Regions from separate parts of the Homo sapiens genome. Here region 2 is linked to region 1. Evidence: fine-mapped expression QTL. A gene starts in region 1. The other region holds a variant in brackets. All regions are shown on one strand. Distances are between the middles of the regions. Region 1 holds the start of NECAP1 (NECAP endocytosis associated 1). Region 2 overlaps C3AR1 (complement C3a receptor 1).

What was found.
Region 2: its variant is fine-mapped to the expression of NECAP1 in whole blood (TOPMed, PIP above 0.99). The same link has a PIP of 0.9 or more in monocytes, monocytes after LPS, monocytes after Pam3CSK4 and monocytes after R848.

The regions. Positions count from the first base shown.
Region 1 is chr12:8,079,311-8,084,693 of GRCh38, reverse strand. NECAP1 (NECAP endocytosis associated 1) reads right to left here and starts at 2,420. Exons shown (of 8, transcript NM_015509.4): 1 at 2,311-2,420. The coding sequence starts at 2,405. RefSeq lists enhancers at 2,178-2,237, 2,308-2,527, 1,959-3,158.
Region 2 is chr12:8,055,406-8,060,788 of GRCh38, reverse strand. C3AR1 (complement C3a receptor 1) reads left to right here. Exons shown (of 2, transcript NM_004054.4): 2 at 594-3,945. The coding sequence starts at 604. The coding sequence ends at 2,052. It overlaps FOXJ2 (forkhead box J2), which reads right to left. Exons shown (of 11, transcript NM_018416.3): 11 at 5,272-5,383. Among named protein-coding and RNA genes, the nearest start is that of C3AR1, 8.3 kb to the left of the region's middle. The variant T/C (reference allele first, on the strand shown) is at 2,748.

The sequences.
Region 1 (5,383 bases):
CCTGGAATAGAGATAAGAATAAAGTGCTATGCAGGAACAGAAAACCAAACACCACATGTTCTCACTCACAAGTGGGAGTTGAACAGTGAGAACGCATGGGCACAGGGAGGGGAACAACACACACTGGGGCCTCTCGGGGGAGGGGCGAGGATGACAGGTTGATAGGTGCAGCAAACCACCATGGCACATGCATACCTATGTAACAAACCTGCACATTCTGCACATGTATCCCAGAACTTAAAGTAAAAAAGAAAAAGAAAAAGGTGCTATGGAAGCACACAGGGTGCATATCTAAACCAGAATGGAAGGGTCACATAGGGCCTCCCAAAGAAGGTGATGTTTAAGTGACTCATATAGTACCTGTAACTACCATCTAAAAGCATGTTGATTTCTACTTAGGGTCAGTTTGGGGTCCAACTAAAAGCTTATTAAAAACAGAACTGCTACCTCTTTGCCAAAGGTGCAACCCACAGGGCCCAGCGCACAGGTCAGCAAGCATAAAAATATTGATTCATGATGAATAAAACGCCAGTAAGGGGCAAAATAACAGACATAAGGAGAGGGTAACTTTTCAGCCAAGGTAATGATAAATGCCAGGAGGAAAAATCACAATGATGATGTGGGTCAGAGAGAAGAATAAGAACAGTATCTTGGCCAGGTGCAGTGGCCCACACCTGTAATTTCAACACTTTGGGAGGCTGTGGCAGGAGAATCACTTAAGGCCAGGAGTTCGAGACCAGCCTGGGAAATATATCAAGATCCTGTCTACACAAAAAAATTTAAAAATTAGCCAGGCATTGTGAGGCAATGCCTGTAGCCCTAGCAACTTGGGAGGCTGAGGTAGGAGGATCCCTTGTGCCCAGGAGTACACAGCTGCCGTGAGCTGTGATTGCACCACTTGCACTCCAGCCTGGATGATAGAACGAGACCCTGCCTCTCTAACAAAAAAAAAAAAAAAAAAAAACGACGGCTGGGCGTGGTGTCACGCCTGTAATCCCAGTACTATGGGAGGCCAAGGTGGGCAGATCACAAGGTCAGGAGTTCAAGACCAGCCTGGCCAACTTGGTGAAACCCCATCTCTACTCAAAATACAAAAATTAGCCAGGTGTGGTGGTGCATGCGTGTAATCCCAACTATTCAGGAAGCTGAAGCAGGAGAATCGCTTGAACCCAGGAGGCGGAGGTTGCAGTGAGCTGAGATTGAGCCATTGCGCTCCGGCCTGGGCAACAAAGTGAGACTACATCTCAAAAAAAAAAAAAAAAAAAAAAAAAAGAACAAACAAATAGTATTTGTAACTGCTTTATTGCATTTCCTACATTCTTTCACATCCATTATATGATTTAATTTTACTCTCCCAAAAACCCTTGTTAAGCACATTATAAGAGCGCAGGTATCATCACTAACAGGTTTTTTTTTCTATTTTACAGATGAGAAAATTGAGGCTTGGAAAGGGCTCACACTCATATGGTTTAACATGAAGCCCAGTGAACTGTCTTTCAACTACATAATGTCCTATAGCATCCTCAGAACCTCACAGTCATTGGATTACAAGGTAGGTAGTTAGGCCCAACAGAGAAAAATGCTGCCTCAACTTTGGAGGGAAAAGGTGTAGGAGAGGTTAAGAAGGGAGGTAGGGAAGGAAGACAGAAAATACTATATAATCATCAAGAAAATACAATGAGAAGAAACAGAATGAACAACCGTTGTAAAGCTTATGATCATAACCTTTGCTCACTGGTAAAACTGCTGAAGGAAAAACCGAATGGTGGATGATGACAGTTGGTGACGAAATTGACAACAGTACAAAAAATAAATCAGATAATCCAGAGTGGCAAGCAACACGATTACCCATAAATGTGCATGGGGAACTGGAAAGGTGTGTGTGTGTGTGTGTGTGTGTGTGTGTGTGTGTGTGTGTGAGAGAGAGAGAGAGAGAAAGGATGAGGATGATAAGCTGAAGGACGCAGGGAAGAGCGAATGAAAGGGGACTGGCAATGGAGCAAGCACGACTGAAAGTGCATGATGGGGAGCAGATGGGTGCCCCAGGGGATTACGGGAGAGGCAGAGTGGAATAACGCAGAGTGGTAATTTAATAAAAAACAAAACAAAAAAAAAAACGGCAGAAATATGGTGATGACAGTCCAGAGTGGAGATGGAGCAGGTGGTCAGGGAGATGACAACCCAGGTAGGGAGGCTAGCAAGGTGACAATACAGAGGTAGTAGTGGCAGGGACGGACAGCGTGCTAGCTGAGAAGGAAGCTGTCATCTGCGACAGAGTACGCGTGTGCGGCAGCGCCTCGGGGTTAGTACCTGTAACCGCGGTTGGAGGCCCGGGGCGGAATCCGGTAGACGCTGACGTCTGGCTTCACACACAGCACAGACTCGTACTCCAACTCGGTCGCCATCTTGGGTCCGCTGTCGGCGCTGCCGGGGGCGAAACGTAAGACCGGAGGCGGAGCACGGGAGGCGGAGATGCAAAGCGCGACAACTTCTGTTGCGTCACTTCCGCGCGAGTTCAAGTTAGTTTCTGAGATTAACCTTTTCGGTGACGCGGGGAGCCATATTGAAACCTGGAAACGATGAGGCTGCACGGCTCACCGTCTTGGATAATGGCAAAGATGGCCTGCAAGTGCGTGACTCTCGTTATGGAAATCTCTGTCCTGGAGAGGTGCTTACGAAAAGCGCCATCTTACTCTAGGCAGGTGCCTGGAGTGTCCTACGAGGACGAGGACCATATTGAATCGTGACGGATTTTCTTACAGGAGTCACTTCCTAACTGTAGTCTCCTGGCAGAAAAGAGGCAACCTCCAGCCGGTAGTCCCAGACGAGGTACCTGCAGAGAATGATGTATGATCTGGTCATAGACACCGTGGATTTCAACTCTCCAGAGTCTAAACGCTGAAAACACCCAACTTGATTTAGTGCCTTACACTCTTTATCTCCGATTTTTCAGGACGACACCTGTTAAAATGTTTTGCCACACTTTCGGCGTGTATTCCGATTATCTTTTTGGAAAATTTGATCCTGTTAAATAGACTATACGTGGGATCAACCCAATTCCTGATAAAATCGGAAGCATAATGAACTATCTAATGGCCTATATTAGCTCCCAGTTCTATTATAATGATAAATGCTACCGAACTCTCACCATAAATATGCTTTTTCTGCGCCCCAAAGGTAAACTTAACCACAACACCCTGACAGTACAGATAGCAAGTGGCAAAACTGAGACAGAAACTCAAGCCTGCCTCATTACAACAGCAGCAGTCTTCACCGCTGCTGGAGCTGGCAAGGTCACCAAGTCTGCCCAGAAAGCTCAGAAGGCTAGATGAATATCATCCCTAATACCTGCCACCCCACTCTTAATCAGTGGTGGAAGAACGGTCTCAGAACTGTTTGTTTCAACTGGCCATTTAAGTTCAGTAGTAAAAGACTGGTTAATGAAAACAATGCATCGTAAAACCTTCAGAAGGAAAGGAGAATGTTTTGTGGACCACTGGTTTTCTTCTTCAGAAGGAAAGGAGAATGTTTTGTGGACCACTGGTTTTCTTTTTTGCGTGTGGCAGTTTTAAGTTATTAGTTTTTTAAATCAGTACTTTTTAATGGAAACATCCAAAAATTTGTCACAGAATTTTGAGACCCATTAAAAAAGTTTAATGAGAAAAAAAAAAAAAGCAAACCTGCCTCTAATTTGTCTGCTCCACCTTGGAAAGTGATATCTTAAATTTCAAAAAGAATTACCACATTTATCCCTGGCGAGGACGTGAGGAACAGTCTAATCTCATACACTGTTGGCAGGAATGTAAATTGGCACGGCATTTTTAAAAGGGAAATTAACAGAATTTATCAAAATATTAATTGGACGTAATCTTCAATTTAGCAGTTTCACTAATAAATATTGTAGAGAAATCCTTATATGCACAAAAAAGTATGTACAATAATACTACAGCATTGTTTGTAATAGTGAAAAAAATGGAAACAAAATGACCATCTATCAATGGGAAATGGTTAATGGTATATCTATTACTATGAGATGTTTTGAACTAAAGGGTTAGCCATTGAAAGAGATCCAAGATTTTTTAAAGCCAACTGCAAAAAACATACAGCATTATCAACTTTTGTCGAAACACCCCAAAATTATATATGCATGCATGTAAATGCATTGAGAAGGCTTTCAAAGGATATAAGGCTAAGTGGGGGAAAGAAACTTATTTTCTCCTCCATATATTTCTCTGTTGTTTAAGATTTATATAGCTATTATTGTCACTGAATACATGTTAAAAGAAAAATAAAGACAGAAAAGTGGTTTATTACTTGTTGTTCCTTATTTCTGACCCTATGATCTCATCTGAAGCCTAGGTCATATGACTACACCACATTGTACCTCTTTTTTTTTCTCTGTTCTGTGTTATCACTGGCAATCATTTTTGGAGGATTCTGGCTTCTGGTTCACCTTCTTACTAGTTTATACTCTTCCTCTTCTCCCAAATCTTTTAGAGATTTCAAAGCCCATATAGTTAACTCTTCCTAGCCATACAATCTCTTGACATAAATTCTAACTATCTTTACCTCTCTTTTCTACCTCACCTGTTCTTCTTCATGTTCTGCACATTGTTAGCCTTCTCTTTATTCCTCCCATCTCCTTGTTTCAACAGTTCTCTTGCCAGCATCCTTAAGTTTCCTTTCCTCTTTGTCTTTCCATCACAGCCAACCCAAAAGACTCCAGTCTTATATATTCCAACCATCTCCCTCCATCATTCTCCAAAAGCAAATCACACAATTATAAAGATTGGTGTCCCTAAAAGTTTATGGGTTTGAGTCTCAGCTTTGCCCTTAACACCCAGATTTGCCATTGCTAGTTTTTATTTTCATTCCCTTTAATGGTTGTTCCAAATTTTGCTGCCCTTTCAGGCCTTCAACTCTAAGTCTTCTCTTTTTCTTTCTTGACAGGTAAAACATCTTACTACTTCCCTAAGAAAATAAAGTTTGTGTGAACTCTCTCAACTTAATGACACCCTATTCATACTCCTATCTGCATCTTCATCTATTCTTTCTCCTATCCACTTGTGTGTGCCCTGGATTCTCCTCAGGGACCAATCTCCTCAGGGACCTGGTTAATCAGTTATCTCCTTTCTTTCCTGTATCTTAAAACTCATTTTCCATTCACCCCTTTCCCTCACCATGTAAGTATATTCAAGTCCTTTCACCTAAAAAAAAAAAAAAAAAAAAACCCTTACTTAACCATGTTTTTTCTTTATATAAATTTAAATTTCCCTTCTCTTGCTTCATCTCAACAGAAACAGAAAAAAATACAGTCTTCCTCACTCTCACCCACGATGTCTTCTCTAGCTTAACTGATCACATTGCCATAATTTTCCATACA
Region 2 (5,383 bases), 24 kb after region 1:
GAGGAGAAATTTACACTAATATGGACTTCCAGATGAGGCTGTGATTTTGATACACACATAAATCAATACAGTAGATTTTAAATTGTCTATCATAGGATGGGCATGGTGGCTCATGCCTATAATCCCAGCACTTTGGGAGGCCAAGGCAGGCAGATCACCCGAGGTCAGGAGTTCAAGACCAGCCTGGCCAACATGGCAAAACCCCGTCTCTACTAAAAATACAAAAATTAGCCAGGCGTGGTGGTGCACGCCTGTAATCCCAGCTACTCTGGAGGCTGAGGCAGGAGAATCGCTTGAACTCGGGAGGCGGAGCTTACAGTGAGCTGAAATCAATCCACTGCACTCCAGCCTGCGCGACAGAGGAAGACTCTGTCTGAAAAATAATTAATAAATTAATAAATAAATATAATTGTCTATCAGAGAATGCTTTTATGTGGTCCCGTGTGAGGTGAAGGAAGGCAAACTAAAACAGCGTGAGGACCTTCTGGTTTCATGATCCCACATCTTTATGTGGGAAGATTAGAATCCTAAGAATATGTATGCATTTTCAAAAAGATACTGTTTGTTTTAACATTTTTTTCATCTTTTTGCAGAAGTTTAGCAATGGCGTCTTTCTCTGCTGAGACCAATTCAACTGACCTACTCTCACAGCCATGGAATGAGCCCCCAGTAATTCTCTCCATGGTCATTCTCAGCCTTACTTTTTTACTGGGATTGCCAGGCAATGGGCTGGTGCTGTGGGTGGCTGGCCTGAAGATGCAGCGGACAGTGAACACAATTTGGTTCCTCCACCTCACCTTGGCGGACCTCCTCTGCTGCCTCTCCTTGCCCTTCTCGCTGGCTCACTTGGCTCTCCAGGGACAGTGGCCCTACGGCAGGTTCCTATGCAAGCTCATCCCCTCCATCATTGTCCTCAACATGTTTGCCAGTGTCTTCCTGCTTACTGCCATTAGCCTGGATCGCTGTCTTGTGGTATTCAAGCCAATCTGGTGTCAGAATCATCGCAATGTAGGGATGGCCTGCTCTATCTGTGGATGTATCTGGGTGGTGGCTTTTGTGATGTGCATTCCTGTGTTCGTGTACCGGGAAATCTTCACTACAGACAACCATAATAGATGTGGCTACAAATTTGGTCTCTCCAGCTCATTAGATTATCCAGACTTTTATGGAGATCCACTAGAAAACAGGTCTCTTGAAAACATTGTTCAGCCGCCTGGAGAAATGAATGATAGGTTAGATCCTTCCTCTTTCCAAACAAATGATCATCCTTGGACAGTCCCCACTGTCTTCCAACCTCAAACATTTCAAAGACCTTCTGCAGATTCACTCCCTAGGGGTTCTGCTAGGTTAACAAGTCAAAATCTGTATTCTAATGTATTTAAACCTGCTGATGTGGTCTCACCTAAAATCCCCAGTGGGTTTCCTATTGAAGATCACGAAACCAGCCCACTGGATAACTCTGATGCTTTTCTCTCTACTCATTTAAAGCTGTTCCCTAGCGCTTCTAGCAATTCCTTCTACGAGTCTGAGCTACCACAAGGTTTCCAGGATTATTACAATTTAGGCCAATTCACAGATGACGATCAAGTGCCAACACCCCTCGTGGCAATAACGATCACTAGGCTAGTGGTGGGTTTCCTGCTGCCCTCTGTTATCATGATAGCCTGTTACAGCTTCATTGTCTTCCGAATGCAAAGGGGCCGCTTCGCCAAGTCTCAGAGCAAAACCTTTCGAGTGGCCGTGGTGGTGGTGGCTGTCTTTCTTGTCTGCTGGACTCCATACCACATTTTTGGAGTCCTGTCATTGCTTACTGACCCAGAAACTCCCTTGGGGAAAACTCTGATGTCCTGGGATCATGTATGCATTGCTCTAGCATCTGCCAATAGTTGCTTTAATCCCTTCCTTTATGCCCTCTTGGGGAAAGATTTTAGGAAGAAAGCAAGGCAGTCCATTCAGGGAATTCTGGAGGCAGCCTTCAGTGAGGAGCTCACACGTTCCACCCACTGTCCCTCAAACAATGTCATTTCAGAAAGAAATAGTACAACTGTGTGAAAATGTGGAGCAGCCAACAAGCAGGGGCTCTTAGGCAATCACATAGTGAAAGTTTATAAGAGGATGAAGTGATATGGTGAGCAGCGGACTTCAAAAACTGTCAAAGAATCAATCCAGCGGTTCTCAAACGGTACACAGACTATTGACATCAGCATCACCTAGAAACTTGTTAGAAATGCAAATTCTCAAGCCGCATCCCAGACTTGCTGAATCGGAATCTCTGGGGGTTGGGACCCAGCAAGGGCACTTAACAAACCCTCGTTTCTGATTAATGCTAAATGTAAGAATCATTGTAAACATTAGTTCTATTTCTATCCCAAACTAAGCTATGTGAAATAAGAGAAGCTACTTTGTTTTTAAATGATGTTGAATATTTGTCGATATTTCCATCATTAAATTTTTCCTTAGCATTGTCTAAGTCTTCCAGATTCCATTTAAAACCATTTCTTGTTCTCCTACGTGAGTGAAAGATGATCATATATCCTAATGCTTTGTTGTCGTGTGGTGTTGATGGTTTTAAACGAAAAGAAAGTGCAAAAAGAAAATGCCTGTGAAGACAAGAAGCCATGAGACTGAGTCTGGAGCATAGGGTTATGCAATGATGCCTGTCCCTGGGAACACCCCTGGGTACAGGATATAGAAATTTCCACTATTACATAGAGTTTCCACTATTACAACTAAATAAGCATCTATTG[T/C]GTGAAAACTGACTCATGAAATGTTATGAAAGCTGTGGTTTGGGGAGTTCTGTTTCTTCTAACTGCCTACCGGTTGGGCACCTATTTTCCACTCCTCTTCCTAAGCTCCTTAATTTCCTTATTACTCCCCAGCCTCCAAATCTTCCACATCAGACTTTGTGCCTCAAACAACCTCTAATTTCGTAAGATTCTAGTTACTCCCTTCCTCTTGCTCCAAATGAATACTTTCTAAGAAAGTATTTCAAGTGGAAGGAGAAAGAGGGTGGAGGATGGAGCAGCAATTCTTCTACTCTCTGCAACTGAGTACCCTACCAGGCTTGCCATCACATTTTAAAACATGACGACAGGCAACTTACATGCCAAAATTACCAAATATATCTTCTGGGTTTTTTAAATCCTTTTCTTTGCCAAAGTAATACATGCACATAGTTTTAAAATAATTTAATAAGGTATATAATGAAATATGAGGTCTCCTACCTCACTGTGCCCAAAAGTTCCCTCCTCCCACTCTCATTTCCCAGAGATAATCCTTGCACAATTTTAGATGTTTCCTTTGATAATTATCATGATGTTTCTAAATCATGTGCTTATGCTGCTCTTTTCTGGAGGCATGATAAAACGACTTCTTGTTTTGAAAGATGAAGATGTTTATCCAAGCACCCCATATTTTTAATTTGTTTATCCAGCATCCCAACATTCATTAATAACCATATTTTAATTCATTCATGACCACATATTTTTCTTCTACTTTGTCTATACACTCCAACCATTTATATAGCTTTCCTTCTGTCCCTTTTTCATTTAAAACAAAATTACCTAACTCCCTACCACCTTCTCATTTTTCTGTATATATAAATGTTTGTGTCAAACGTCTGAAATTTCTGGCTTGTTTGTATCACAACGTGGCCTCATCTAAACCAAATACAATGATGTAGTCTAAAAACAGAAAATGACATGTGTTTTAGACCTGCAAGACACTATCTGTTCAATGGCTGAGGTGAGGGTCTGGACTACAGATTTTTTATAAAGTATATGCAGAAAAATTACAAATCACTAGGAATTCTTTCAGTTGTGAAGAATGTCTGACATAAGATTTGAAGTGCTACCTTTCCAGCTTATATATTAATTTGCTTATATATTTGATATGAATAAATGCTTTTTTTCTCATGGGTCCTTGCGAGGCTCAGAGATTTATGAATCCTTTTGTTTCACATTCAGAATATATCACATCTCTAAATATGCAGCAAATAAGTCTCCTAGTGAGTGACTATAGACTTGCTATAATAGCAATTAGCCAGGCTTCCAGAAACCCCAGCACATCCCATAAGACCCTGGGAATAAGACCTAAACTCCTGGGGTTAGTGTATAGGATATCAAGGTGAATAATCTTGACGCAGTTATAAAGATTTAATGTACAACGAGTAATCAGCATTTCTGGACTCCTTTTCTTTTCCATTTGCTTTGGAAATGTATTCTGAAGAAATTCCTACAATTAGAGCTCCCTCATTTCTGATGAAAACCTGGTGAGTACCTGTAACTATTTTGTACTGTATCTTCTCCAGGAAGTCCCAGATGGGAACACAGCTCCTGTCCAAAGTATAATATCTTTTCTTTTTTTTTTTGAGATGAAGTATCACTCTGTAGCCCAGGCTAGAGCACAGTGGCACACTTGGCACGATCTCAGCTCACTGCAACCTCCACCTCTCGGGTTCAAGCAATTCTTCTGCCTCAGCCTCTCAAGTAGCTGGGATTACAGGCGCCTGCCACCACACCCGGCTAATTTTTGTATTTATAGTAGAGATGAGGTTTCACCATGTTGGCCAGGCTGGTCTCGAACTCCTGACCTTGTGATCTGCCCACCTCGGCCTCCCAAAGTGCTGGGATTACAGGTGTGACCCACCGCGCCCAACCAATATCTTTTCTTTTTGAGAGAGAGTTTCGTTCTTGTCACCCAGGCTGGAGTGCAACAGTGCAGTCTTGGCTTACTATAACCTCCGCCTTCCAGGTTCAAACGATTCTCCTGCCTCAGCCTCCAGAGTAGCTGGGATAACAGGCATGCACCACCACGCCCGGCTAATTTTGTGTTTTTAGTAGAGACGGGGTTTTACCATGTTGGTCAGGCTGAGCTCGAACTCCTGACCTCAGGTGATCTGCCTGCCTCGGCCTCCCAAACTGCTGGGATTATAGGCATGAGCCACCACGCCCAGCCCCAAAGTATAATATCTTAAATCTTTAAACTATCCTAAAATGCAAGCAAGGTGGGCCTACTCCATATACCAACCTACAAGGGGTGACTGACTCTCCCGCAATATGTCATCATACTTGATAGCATTTGAAAAGAGGCACGTTAAGGACGTGCCTTTGATTCTTCTTTCCCACCAAGGTCACAAAACGTGTCAGGGTCAACTAATTCAACCCAGTGGTGGAAGGTGGAAGAGGAATAAAGACGAACTGAGACTAAATTCTTTCACGTTTCTCTTTTCCTTCCCTGGCCAAAAGAAACTTGAGACCACTACCAGTAAGATAAAACTGTAAACATTCTTTTTTTTTTTTTATTAAGAAAGCATGCAAAAAAACAATGACAACAACTTGTGAGACCATATACCCCCTTCCCAGGATGCAGCAATGCAAAGCAT